3 linked regions of the Homo sapiens genome follow. The protein of the gene in region 1 purifies or fractionates together with the protein of each later gene. This does not show direct contact. Each region holds a gene or a part of one and is shown in the gene's direction. Other genes may lie near its edges. The genes, in order: ERI1, LIN28B and C1orf174.

What was found.
Region 2: the proteins of ERI1 (region 1) and LIN28B purify together in Homo sapiens (co-immunoprecipitation; one large-scale study listed by IntAct). This does not show direct contact.
Region 3: the proteins of ERI1 (region 1) and C1orf174 purify together in Homo sapiens (co-immunoprecipitation; one large-scale study listed by IntAct). This does not show direct contact.

What each region holds. Positions count from the first base shown.
Region 1 is NC_000008.11:9,030,368-9,033,838, forward strand, and holds the end of ERI1 (3'-5' exoribonuclease 1), read left to right. Parts: 3' UTR 1-2,181; coding exon of another isoform or gene 2,182-2,244; 3' UTR 2,245-2,971; downstream 2,972-3,471. UniProt on the Homo sapiens protein: RNA exonuclease that binds to the 3'-end of histone mRNAs and degrades them, suggesting that it plays an essential role in histone mRNA decay after replication.
Region 2 is NC_000006.12:104,963,566-104,967,297, forward strand, and holds part of LIN28B (protein lin-28 homolog B), read left to right. Parts: intron 1-3,732. UniProt on the Homo sapiens protein: Suppressor of microRNA (miRNA) biogenesis, including that of let-7 and possibly of miR107, miR-143 and miR-200c.
Region 3 is NC_000001.11:3,890,273-3,894,004, reverse strand, and holds part of C1orf174 (UPF0688 protein C1orf174), read left to right. Parts: intron 1-1,008; coding exon 1,009-1,122; exon of another isoform or gene 1,123-1,256; coding exon of another isoform or gene 1,257-1,264; intron 1,265-2,225; coding exon of another isoform or gene 2,226-2,379; intron 2,380-2,947; coding exon 2,948-3,436; intron 3,437-3,732.

The sequences.
Region 1 (3,471 bases):
TACTGGTGTTTAAATATGTAATGTGTTTCTTTATTAACATCACTAGATGAAACCATATCTTAAAATGCAGAAATGATTGGAAGGTAGATCTTATCTAGCCTTTGGATTTCAAGAATATCATAGTCCTTTTGATTTTCAAAGTTTATATGTGAAGTTCACCATGTATGTGGTGAATTTCGTAAGGTACTTGGTATACATATCTGCCTATGTTTCTTTTCAACTCATAATTGGAAGAATTATGATGGATTATAGGGTTTGGTTAAAAATCCAGTTACTGAAGGAATTAATGAAAACGTAGAAGAAAGTACTAAAAGGAATATCATAAGGGCTGTAGCTCAAACTTCATAATACATAAATCACTGGGGTCTTTTTGGATTTGGTTGTTTGATTCGCCTTCCTTTTTTGACATATGTATGCCTTAATTCTTAAATCTGAGGGACCATGCTTTGAAATAGACTGAAAATTAAGGGTCACCACCTAATTTTACTTTGTATTCAGTATCGTAAGTGAGGTTAATAAAGTCAATACTTTCTACCATATATTACGTTTTTGTTATTAAAAAACTTCATTGGCCACTAGTGAAGTTAGTCAATAAAAGACTTGTTTTTCTGATTTTACATAGTAAATGGCTGCTAAGTATTGAGTAATTCTTAACTAATTCTAAAAACTAAAATGTGCATTTCGACTTGATAAGGTAAAACTCTTATCTAGAGGCTAAACCCATGTATTTTCAGAATTGAATTTTTCTCCTTGTAGCTTTCAGGGAACAATTTCATTGACATTGCTTGCTTCCTGCCTTTTACCTTTTAATAAAAATTGTGATGCTACTTTATTCTAAAGATTTATATTTTATAACCAGATGAATTTCCTCAAAGGTTTCCAAACCTATATCATATAGGGTGAAAAGCAGGAAAGTAGACATTTTTCTTGGCGTGGGAATTCTCTACATAGGGCAGTAGATTTCTTAAGCCAATGAATTTCTGCTTTTCAGCAGTAGTCATATAATCAGTATCATAAAGAATAATGTGTAAATAACAGAAGGCATATGAGAGTGTGGTGTTCCTAGATGAACTGTTACAGATTATAGTAAAATAAGGAAATCTAAGTGCTTTAAGTTTATACAGTTAACTCTTAGGATAAGAGGGATGTATGCTGAGATGTTTGTGCATCCCAGATAGCACTGTACAATAACCTGTAAAGTATTACTGAATACTGAATAGCTGAAACTGCAATTGGAAAATCTGATGATGACGAGGAAATATTACGTTTCCAGTTTTTTTAGCTCTATCTGCTAATTTCTTTGCCTGTTTTCACTTTCGCCAAGTACCAACAAGCTCATGTTGTATTTCTTTTTAAGAACTTCAACATTATAAGCTCTCAGTACCCTATTTTGTTGTTGTTGTTGTTTGAGACAGAGTTTTTGCTCGTCTGCCAGGATGGAGTGCAGTGGTGCGATCTTGGCTCACTGCAACCTCCGCCTCCTGGGCTCAGGTGATCCTCTTGCCTCAGCCTCCTGAGTAGCTCAGATTACAGGCGCGTGCCACCACACCCGCCTAATTTTTGTATTTTTGGTAGAGGCGGGGTTTCACCATGTTGGTCAGGCTGGTCTTGAACTCCTGACCTCAAGTGATTTGCCCACCTTGACCTCCTACAGACGTGAGCCACTGCGCTCAGCCATAGATTTTACTGTCTTAACCCATTTTAATTCCTCTGTTGAGTCTCTGTCCTCCCCTCCAATTTGATTTGGGATTTTGCTGATGAGATGATACTAAACATTGAGAGTACTGCTTTTTACTCTGACTTTTATTGTGTTGTCTTTGAAAGACAAATAGTACAACTTTTTACAAGGAAACACGTAAGAGATGGATGTCCATGAAAACAATATTAGTATATTCTATTATTGTTTCTTATTAATAGTTACTTAGTATTTACAAACAATTTATTATTAGCTGTGTTAACTTTTATTCTATGCTTCATATGCTCTGACATTGACATAGTGGATTTCTGCTGATTTTTTTCAAATCCGCAATCTTTATAACCAACTGAAGTATATAATAGAGCATTACATTTTATCTTTATTTGTGTTCTGTTGGATCAAGTATTTAACATTTGCTCTGAAAAAAATGTTTTTGTGATGTGTCTTTGTTGCCTTGAGATAGATCCATTTATCCTGCCTCCTAGGGAGAAGTTTCTGCCTGGATTGAAACAAAAAAACACAGGCGTCACAAGCATGTTACCTATTAAGAGAGAGAGGGTATCTCTGAAGACTAATTAAAATGGTAATTTTTAAAAAGATGTGACCAGTTGACTTTTAGTATATCATCCCAAGTATTATCCCCAAAATGATAATGCAAAACAGAATAATTTGGAGACCAGGAGAAAAACTGGTATGATTACTGGGGAGGGGAAGAAGCACAGGTGGTCAAGATAATAATGCATGTTTGGCCTCAGCTGTAGTTGCCAAAGAAACTACCTGCCTCACAGATGAGCACGCACGGGTGCATTGTCAAAGTCTGAGAAGGATGTATTGTACTTTGAAGGAAGACTTTCCATTTCTAAGCTACCATGGAGAAGTATATGCTCCTCGAGACCAGAGACTGTGACTTCTGCATCTTTGATTCCAGCGACATATGATAAAATGTTTTGCACATAGTTGAATCCAGCGTTGATACATGAAGGACAGCATTACATCTTTTTTCTATTATACTTAGAAATTTCCTCTTTGTTCTGCACCACCAACCTGTATATCAAGCCTCCTTGCCCCACAAAGCTTCCAAAGCCCGTAAATTTGTTAATCTAGAGCAGGGGTCAGCAAACTACCACCCATGGGCCAAATCTGGCTGCTGCCTATTTTTGTATGGCCTACAAACTATGGTTTTTATATTCCCTTTTGTTAATGGCTCAAAATAATATTTTGTATAATACGAAAATTACGAAATTTTAGTTTCTCTAAATAAAGTTTTGGAAAGAACTACCATTCTCATTTGTTTTCATGTCATCTCTGACCACTTTTGTGCTACAATGGCAGAGTTGAATAGCTGCATCAGTGGCACCATCTGGCCAGCAAGGCCAAAAAATACTACTGTCTGGCCCTTTATGGAGAAAGTTTGCCTACCCTTACCTCCCTTATGTAATGCAATATATAAGTTCCATCAACAAACAAGAAATGCGACTGTGATGAGAGCGTAGAGCTGAATGTTAAGGTACAATGATACTTGCATCAGACATTTATGGAGCACTGTTAAGTACTTTACTCCATTGTTTAGTAAGAATCTGGTGATGGAGAGAGGCATTCTCTGCAGTTTACAGATGGGAAAGTTGAGGTCCAGAGCGGTTAAGTTGCCAAAGTTTAAGTAGTGGGAGCTGTAGATTCTGGCAGTATGGCTTGAGCCTTGCTCTTTATCTCTGTGCTATGCTGCCTCCCGTTGTAGACTTTGGCTTAACCTGATATTCCAGGAACAGGTAGGTTGT
Region 2 (3,732 bases), on another chromosome or scaffold:
TTTTCTCCTGCCTTTTTAAAGAGCAGTTTTAGGTTCACAGCAAAATTAAGAGGAAAATACATAGATTTTTCCATGTACCCTTGCCCCTTCAAATGCATAGCATCCTCCATTATCAACATCCCCTACCAAGAGTGGCACATTTGTTTCAATTAATGAATGTACATTGACACATCATAATCACACAGAGTCCATAGTTTATATTAGTGTTAGCCTTTGGTGTTGCATGTTCTCGCTAATTTTCAATTCCTCTTTTATTTTAAAAGACTATTCACAACAAATGAATGCAGTAAATCAAAGAATAATTTTTTAAATAAAAATATGAGTGTCAAACCACTTACAAGTATTCAGTGTAACCTTTTAAAGCATGTCTTTAACTTATCTTAGAGTTCTTAGGTTTCATGAGAAATTAAAAGCTTATTTGTTATCTGCGTTCACCTTGGTAGATTAAAAATTGAGTCCTTCACTGTAATTTTTGTCGCTTTCAGGCAGCAACAAAACATTATTTGGATTTGGTTTAATTCTTCCTATTCAGAGATAGTTAGAAATATTACAGATAGTTATGTCTATTTTAACCGAGCAGCTCTTTTGGTTTGTGATTAACTTAAAAGTTGCTACTTAAAAATAAGATGCACTGTGTTGTTTTTGTTTTTTTGAGACTAAGTTACCCAGGCTGACCTGGAACTCCTAGCTAGTCTCAAGAGATACTCCCTCCTCAGCCTCCCTAATAGCTGTGACTACAGGCATGCACCACTGTGTCCAGCTTGATGTACTATATTCTTACTTCTAAACTGAGAATAACCTAAACAAAGTGAAGATACTTCTGATCAATTAAACTGGAAAGTTATCTTAAATGTTATATTCTATAGACTTGATTTGGAATGAAATATGGGATATTTTATCATTATCAAAGACTATCAGTTCTTTATACTTTGAGCTATTTCCCCTGAGTTTTGAGTAACAGGAAGTTCAGCTTATTTAATACATAGTTACAATAGATGGCATTGTACCATATACAATGCATAAGAAATTCAACTGATTTATATTCCTCCCTAAAATAATTGATTATAGCATCTTCTAATATCATAAAAGTTGATAACAGTAATGTGTTTAAGAAAGTACATTGCAGGTCAGTGGGGTACATTTAAAAATGATCTTTTAATGAGTAGTTTATCAAACAAGTAATGAAAGTACCATGTTGCATTTTGATACATCAGGATACATCTAATCATTTATCTCAAATTGGAGGACAGTCTGATTATTGCTTCTTCTTTTCCAATATCTAAATATTTGACAATTTGGAAATATTTTCTAAATAAGATTTACAAATAATTGATAGATTTAGTGTTATAATTTTTTCTATAATTTTCTGTTACCTGGAGTAATACCTAACTTTTAAAGTTGTTTTGAAGAGTAGAGGTAATGTTATATAACTGCCTAGTAAGTGTCTGTTGAGAAAATAAACTAATGTAAACTGGTCTTTGCCAAAAGAATAATGGATAAGTTATTTTCAGTGGTGTATACTCATGGTGGATAATTAAGCTGGTCTTTTATGTGCTTTCTTTAAAATTGGCCAAAATGTGTTGTATATTAATAGTTTAATTTCCATTACAGTTGATGTTAAGGCTTTTCATTATAGTTTTGTGGCATTGAATATTGTTTTTGTTATTTAAAATAATTCTTTTGGCTGAGCATGGTGGCTCATGCCTGTAATCCCAGCACTTTGGGAGGCTGAGGCTGGCAGATTGAGCCCAGGAGTTTTAGACCAGCCTGGGTAACATGGCAAAACTCCGTCCCTACCAAAAAAATTAGCTAGGCCTGATGGCATGCACCTGTGGTCCCAAATATCAGGGAGCCTGAGGTAAAAGGATCACTTCTTGAGCCCAGGAGACAGAGGCCACAATGAGCTGAGATCACTCCATTGCACTCCAGTCTGGACGACAGAGCAAGATGGTCTCTAAAATTATTATTTTTTTTGAGATCTGGTCTCACTCTGTTGCCTAGGCTAGAGTGCAGTGGCAGGATCATAGCTTACTGAAGCCTTGACTTCCTGGGCTCAAGTGATCCTCCTGCCTTGGCCTCCCAAAGTCCTGGGATTACAGGCATGAGCAACAGTGCCAGGCCTAGAATATTGTTTAAAGTATCAGGGTGTAAACTGCAGCTTGGAAATATTTTTGTTATGCAGATATTTTGGTTTTAATAATTGTTGTAACATAAGATTTTACCTGTGTAAGATTTTACCTGTGTACATATGCATGTGTATTCATTATAAGCTAAAGAAAAAATACTGTTTTAAATAGGCCTGTTGTGATAATTTAATACCATTTTTTGGTTAATAATTATTTAATCTTTGTAAGATAGTATAGAATGATAAAGATTCTGGTCAAATCAGTATTCAAATCCCAGTTTATTAGATACCTGTAAGGGAAGTAAGTTACCTTGTCAGTGTCTCAATGGCCTATAAATCGGAGGACAAAAATAGTACCCACTTTGTATAGGGCTGTTAGGAGGATTACATGTTATTACATATGTAAAGCACCTAACACAAACTTGGCAGATAGTAGGGACTCAATGTGTGTTGTACATAATTAGTATTATAAAGGAGAAGTAGTGTGGTATTGTGAGAAAAAAAACCATGGGAATGAGTGTTTGGCTTCGGCTCTGCCAGTTGGTTGGTTTATAACTTTTGGCTGGTCACTTCCAGGGAGCTTCAGTGTTCTTATGGGTAAAATGTGATAAATAATATTTTTCATCTTTATTTTAGAGGGTTATGGTAAGGGTCAATTGAAATAATACACATGAAAATAATTTAAAAACTGTAACAATCTCAGGTTTTAGTTTTTATCTTTTTTTCAAGAGCTATGTTTTTATTAATCATTTTAATTATAAGAGTTTTTCTGGTTTTTGTTTTGAGACAGAGTATTGCTCTTGCTCAGGCTGGAGTGCAGTGGTGGGATCATGGCTCACTGCAACCTCAAACTCCTGACTCAAGCAATTATCCCACCTGAGCCTTCTGAGATGCTGGGATTCTAGGTGTGCATCACCATGCCCGGCTGATTTTTTTTTTTTTTTTTTTTGAGACAGAGTCTCGCTACATTGCCCAGGCTGGAGTGCAGTGGTGCTGTATCGGCTCACTGCAAGCTCCGCCTCCCAGGTTCACGCCATTCTCCTGCCTCAGCCTCCAGAGTAGCTGTGACTACAGGCACTCGCCACCACGCCCGGCTAATTTTTTGTATTTTTAGTAGAGATGGGGTTTCACCGAGTTAGCCAGGATGGTCTCAATCTCCTGACGTTGTGATCCGCCCACTTCGGCCTCCCAAAGTGCTGGGATTACAGGCGTGAGCCACCGCGCCCAACCTCTGGCTGATATTTTTTATTATATTTGTAGAGACGGGGTCTCCCCATGTTGCCCAGGCTGGTCTTGAACTCCTGGGCTCAAGGGATCCTCCCACCTCAGCCTGCCAAAGTTACAGAGATTTACAGGCGTGAATCACCATGCCTGGCCTCACTCTGGTTTTCTTTAGTTTTTTTTTCTACCTGGAAATTAACCTTTATCCTAGTAGTGTCTGTGCTTGTTAATGAGATTAATTCATATGCATTTTACTAATCTTCAATATAATATTAATTTCATTTATCATTATGGTATTTTCTCATGTGCTGTAAACTCACCACTTACTTAAAGGGCATAATTAGGCTTATTGATGTTCATATGTCTTGTCAGAAATTTATTGAATT
Region 3 (3,732 bases), on another chromosome or scaffold:
CACTAATTTCTTAATGTTGACAATGTCCTGTAGTTGTTTAACATTAGTGGAAGCTGAGTGAAGGCTACATGGCAACTCCCTGTACTATTTTATTATTATTATTTTTTCAGAGACACTGTCTCACTCTGTCACCCAGGTGGAGTGCAGTGGTGCAGTCATAGCTCACTACAGCCTCAGACTCCTGGGATCAAGTGATCCTCTCACCTCAGCCTCCCACATAGCTGGGACTACAGGTGCACACCACCACACCTGGCTAATTTTTAAAAAAATTTTTTAAAGATGGGCTTTCGCTGTATTGCCCAGGCTGGTCTTGAACTCCTGGGCTCGAGCGATCCTCCTACCTCAGCTTCCCAAGTAGCTGGGATTACAGGTGTGAGCTATCACACCAGTTTCTTTGTACTATTTTTTGCAACTTTCTGAATGCCGAAAATTATTCCTAAATAGTTATTTTAAATGTTATGTCTTTAATTAATTTCTTTCTTGTTATTAGAGGAGTTTGCTTTGCATTCAGGATAAAAGAGAGGTGGACCAGTTTGTTAATATTAAAATTTGTGAGACAGTCGCTAGCTGCATTCAGCTAATAGAATAGGAGTCTAATTTGAGGAAGAGAAACTTTGGTTTCCTCATGTTACCTTTTTTTAAAAACTTTGACAACGTATGAAAGTTGGAGAGCCTTCTAAGGAAGGGCATGTGCTGCTTATTCTAAACACTTTGAAGTTGACTTAATTTCCACTAAAGGACAAATGGTGGCTACTAGAAATATACAAGATAAGGGGGACAGATCGTCCCAAGCCTCCAAAATCGTGGAAATAGTAGATCCTGTATCCTAAATCCAGGCACAGTTTCATTTGGATTTACACATTCGGGCCACAGCTGTCTCCACAAAGATGATAAAATCCTGGGAGTGGGAGGGGCGGTCTTCGGGTGTTCTTTAGGTGGGAAATTCTCGTCTACATGTTCATGCTGCCTTCCTGAGAGCACTCTCTGAGTGGCTCTCAATCTCTCTAGCTCACAGGTGCAGTGCGGTCTTCAGCGCGCTTGAAAGCACGAAGTTGTTCGGCAGCCAGGTTGGCCTCTGCCCAGGAAGTTGCTGGTTCCACGTCTGCCAAGACAGCATGTCTGGTGAGCCCTGTTACCGTGGAGAACGCCAAGATCCTGACTCGAGGGTCCATTTTTATACAAAATTGCCACTCCAAGATGTGTTGCTTTAGAAAAATATCGACTGTTACTTATCTGCCAGAGGGGGACTATTGCAGATGAAAAGGTGACAGCACTGTAATTGCCTTCAGAGAAAGACACACTCTGCAGGCCAGGGCTGGCTCTCCTAGCACCCGCCCACCCGTGTGTGTGTCTAGACCCGGGCTCTGATCCTAGCACCCGCCCACCCGTGTGTGTGTCTAGACCCGGGCCCTGATCCTAGCACCCGCCCACCCGTGTGTGTGTCTAGACCCGGGCCCTGATCCTAGCACCCTCCCACCCGTGTGTGTGTCTAGACCCGGGCCCTGATCCTAGCACCCTCCCACCCGTGTGTGTGTCTAGACCCGGGCCCTGATCCTAGCACCCGCCCACCCGTGTGTGTGTCTAGACCCGGGCCCTGATCCTAGCACCCGCCCACCCGTGTGTGTGTCTAGACCCGGGCCCTGATCCTAGCACCCGCCCACCCGTGTGTGTGTCTAGACCCGGGCCCTGATCCTAGCACCCGCCCACCCGTGTGTGTGTCTAGACCCGGGCCCTGATCCTAGCACCCGCCCACCCGTGTGTGTGTCTAGACCCGGGCCCTGATCCTAGCACCCGCCCACCCGTGTGTGTGTCTAGACCCGGGCCCTGATCCTAGCACCCGCCCACCCGTGTGTGTGTCTAGACCCGGGCCCTGATCCTAGCACCCGCCCACCCGTGTGTGTGTCTAGACCCGGGCCCTGATCCTAGCACCCGCCCACCCGTGTGTGTGTCTAGACCCGGGCCCTGATCCTAGCACCCGCCCACCCGTGTGTGTGTCTAGACCCGGGCCCTGATCCTAGCACCCGCCCACCCGTGTGTGTGTCTAGACCCGGGCTCTGATCCTAGCACCCGCCCACCCGTGTGTGTGTCTAGACCCGGGCCCTGATCCTAGCACCCTCCCACCCGTGTGTGTGTCTAGACCCGGGCTCTGATCCTAGCACCTGCCCACCCGTGTGTGTGTCTAAACCAGGCTCTGAGGCCACTTGTGCTCATCGCTCTGCTCTTAGCGTGCTATGGAGTCATGCTGGCCCATTGCCGTGCAGCCTCACCGCCAGAGGCTTGAAGAGAAAGGCAGAGTGGGTGGGGAAAGGAATCTCATGCCGTCTGCCGTTCACCCTAGCCCAGCCATCGATTCCGAGGAGCGAGTTCCTGAACTTACCGGTGAAGTAGAGCCGCTTCACGGAGCCTACAGTTGAGGGGTTAGGACTTGGCCATATGCCAGCGTGTAGCACAGAGCTTTGCTCATGATGAGGTGCTTGGTAAAATTTTGTCGAAGTCAATTTCACAAATATTTCTTGAGCACCTACTGTGTGCCAGGCACTAATTGGTGAATAAAGCAAAGACCCCTGCCTTCACAGAGCTTATGCCCTAGCAGAAATGAATGAAAGCTGGATTCTTTTACTGTAATTGTATAATATATAAATATATGCTTCAGAATTCACCTGAGGAGCTGTAACGCCACTAGGGGAAACTGAAAGTGTAGGAGTGGTGTGGAGCTGTAACGCCACTAGGGAAAACTGAAAGTGTAGGAGTGGTGTGGGGTGTGTCTAGATTCAGTCTCGCTTGTATTTTGTCCCTTGGTGGCAAAACAGTGAAATGACGATCTGTGAAAGTTGTGGTCACAGCATCTTTATCATTTCCGATGTGAGAAGAAATACTAGCCTCTGGATTGAGGCCTGTTTTATTTGCTAGATATGTCTGGTTCCCCTTACATTTTTTTTCTTGACAGACTTCCTCATCCCACAAAGCCACAGACACGCGAACGTCCAAGAAGTTCAAATGTGACAAAGGACATCTTGTGAAGTCAGAATTACAGAAGCTTGTCCCTAAGAATGACAGCGCTTCTTTGCCAAAAGTGACACCTGAGACCCCTTGTGAAAATGAGTTTGCTGAAGGCAGTGCCTTGCTTCCAGGCAGCGAGGCTGGCGTTTCTGTGCAGCAGGGGGCTGCAAGTCTTCCTCTCGGTGGCTGCAGAGTTGTGAGTGACTCTCGCTTAGCAAAGACTAGAGATGGCCTGTCCGTGCCAAAACACAGTGCCGGGTCCGGAGCAGAAGAATCCAACAGCAGCTCCACTGTGCAGAAGCAGAATGAGCCAGGGCTACAGACAGAGGATGTGCAGAAGCCACCACTTCAGATGGACAACAGCGTCTTTCTAGATGACGACAGCAATCAGCCAATGCCCGTGAGCCGGTTCTTTGGAAACGTTGAGCTCATGCAGGTAAGAGCGGCGCCTTCCTCCTCCCGTGGGTACTCAGGCAGCAGCTGCACATTCAGGTCACACACTCCCCACTCAGTGCAGGTAAATAATGCCTCGACACAACATTAAACATAAACTAATCATTTTAACCCACGAGGAGAAAATGAAACCGTTGGCTAATTGGGGGCTCTCCCTGCATCTCCCGAGCTGAGAATCACTGCTCTCGGGAAAGGTGTGTTTCCATGAAATCAGGTTTGTGGTTTTTTTGAACATCCACCCCGCGCTTGCTGTTAATTTCTTTTGTTTTGAACCCAGCA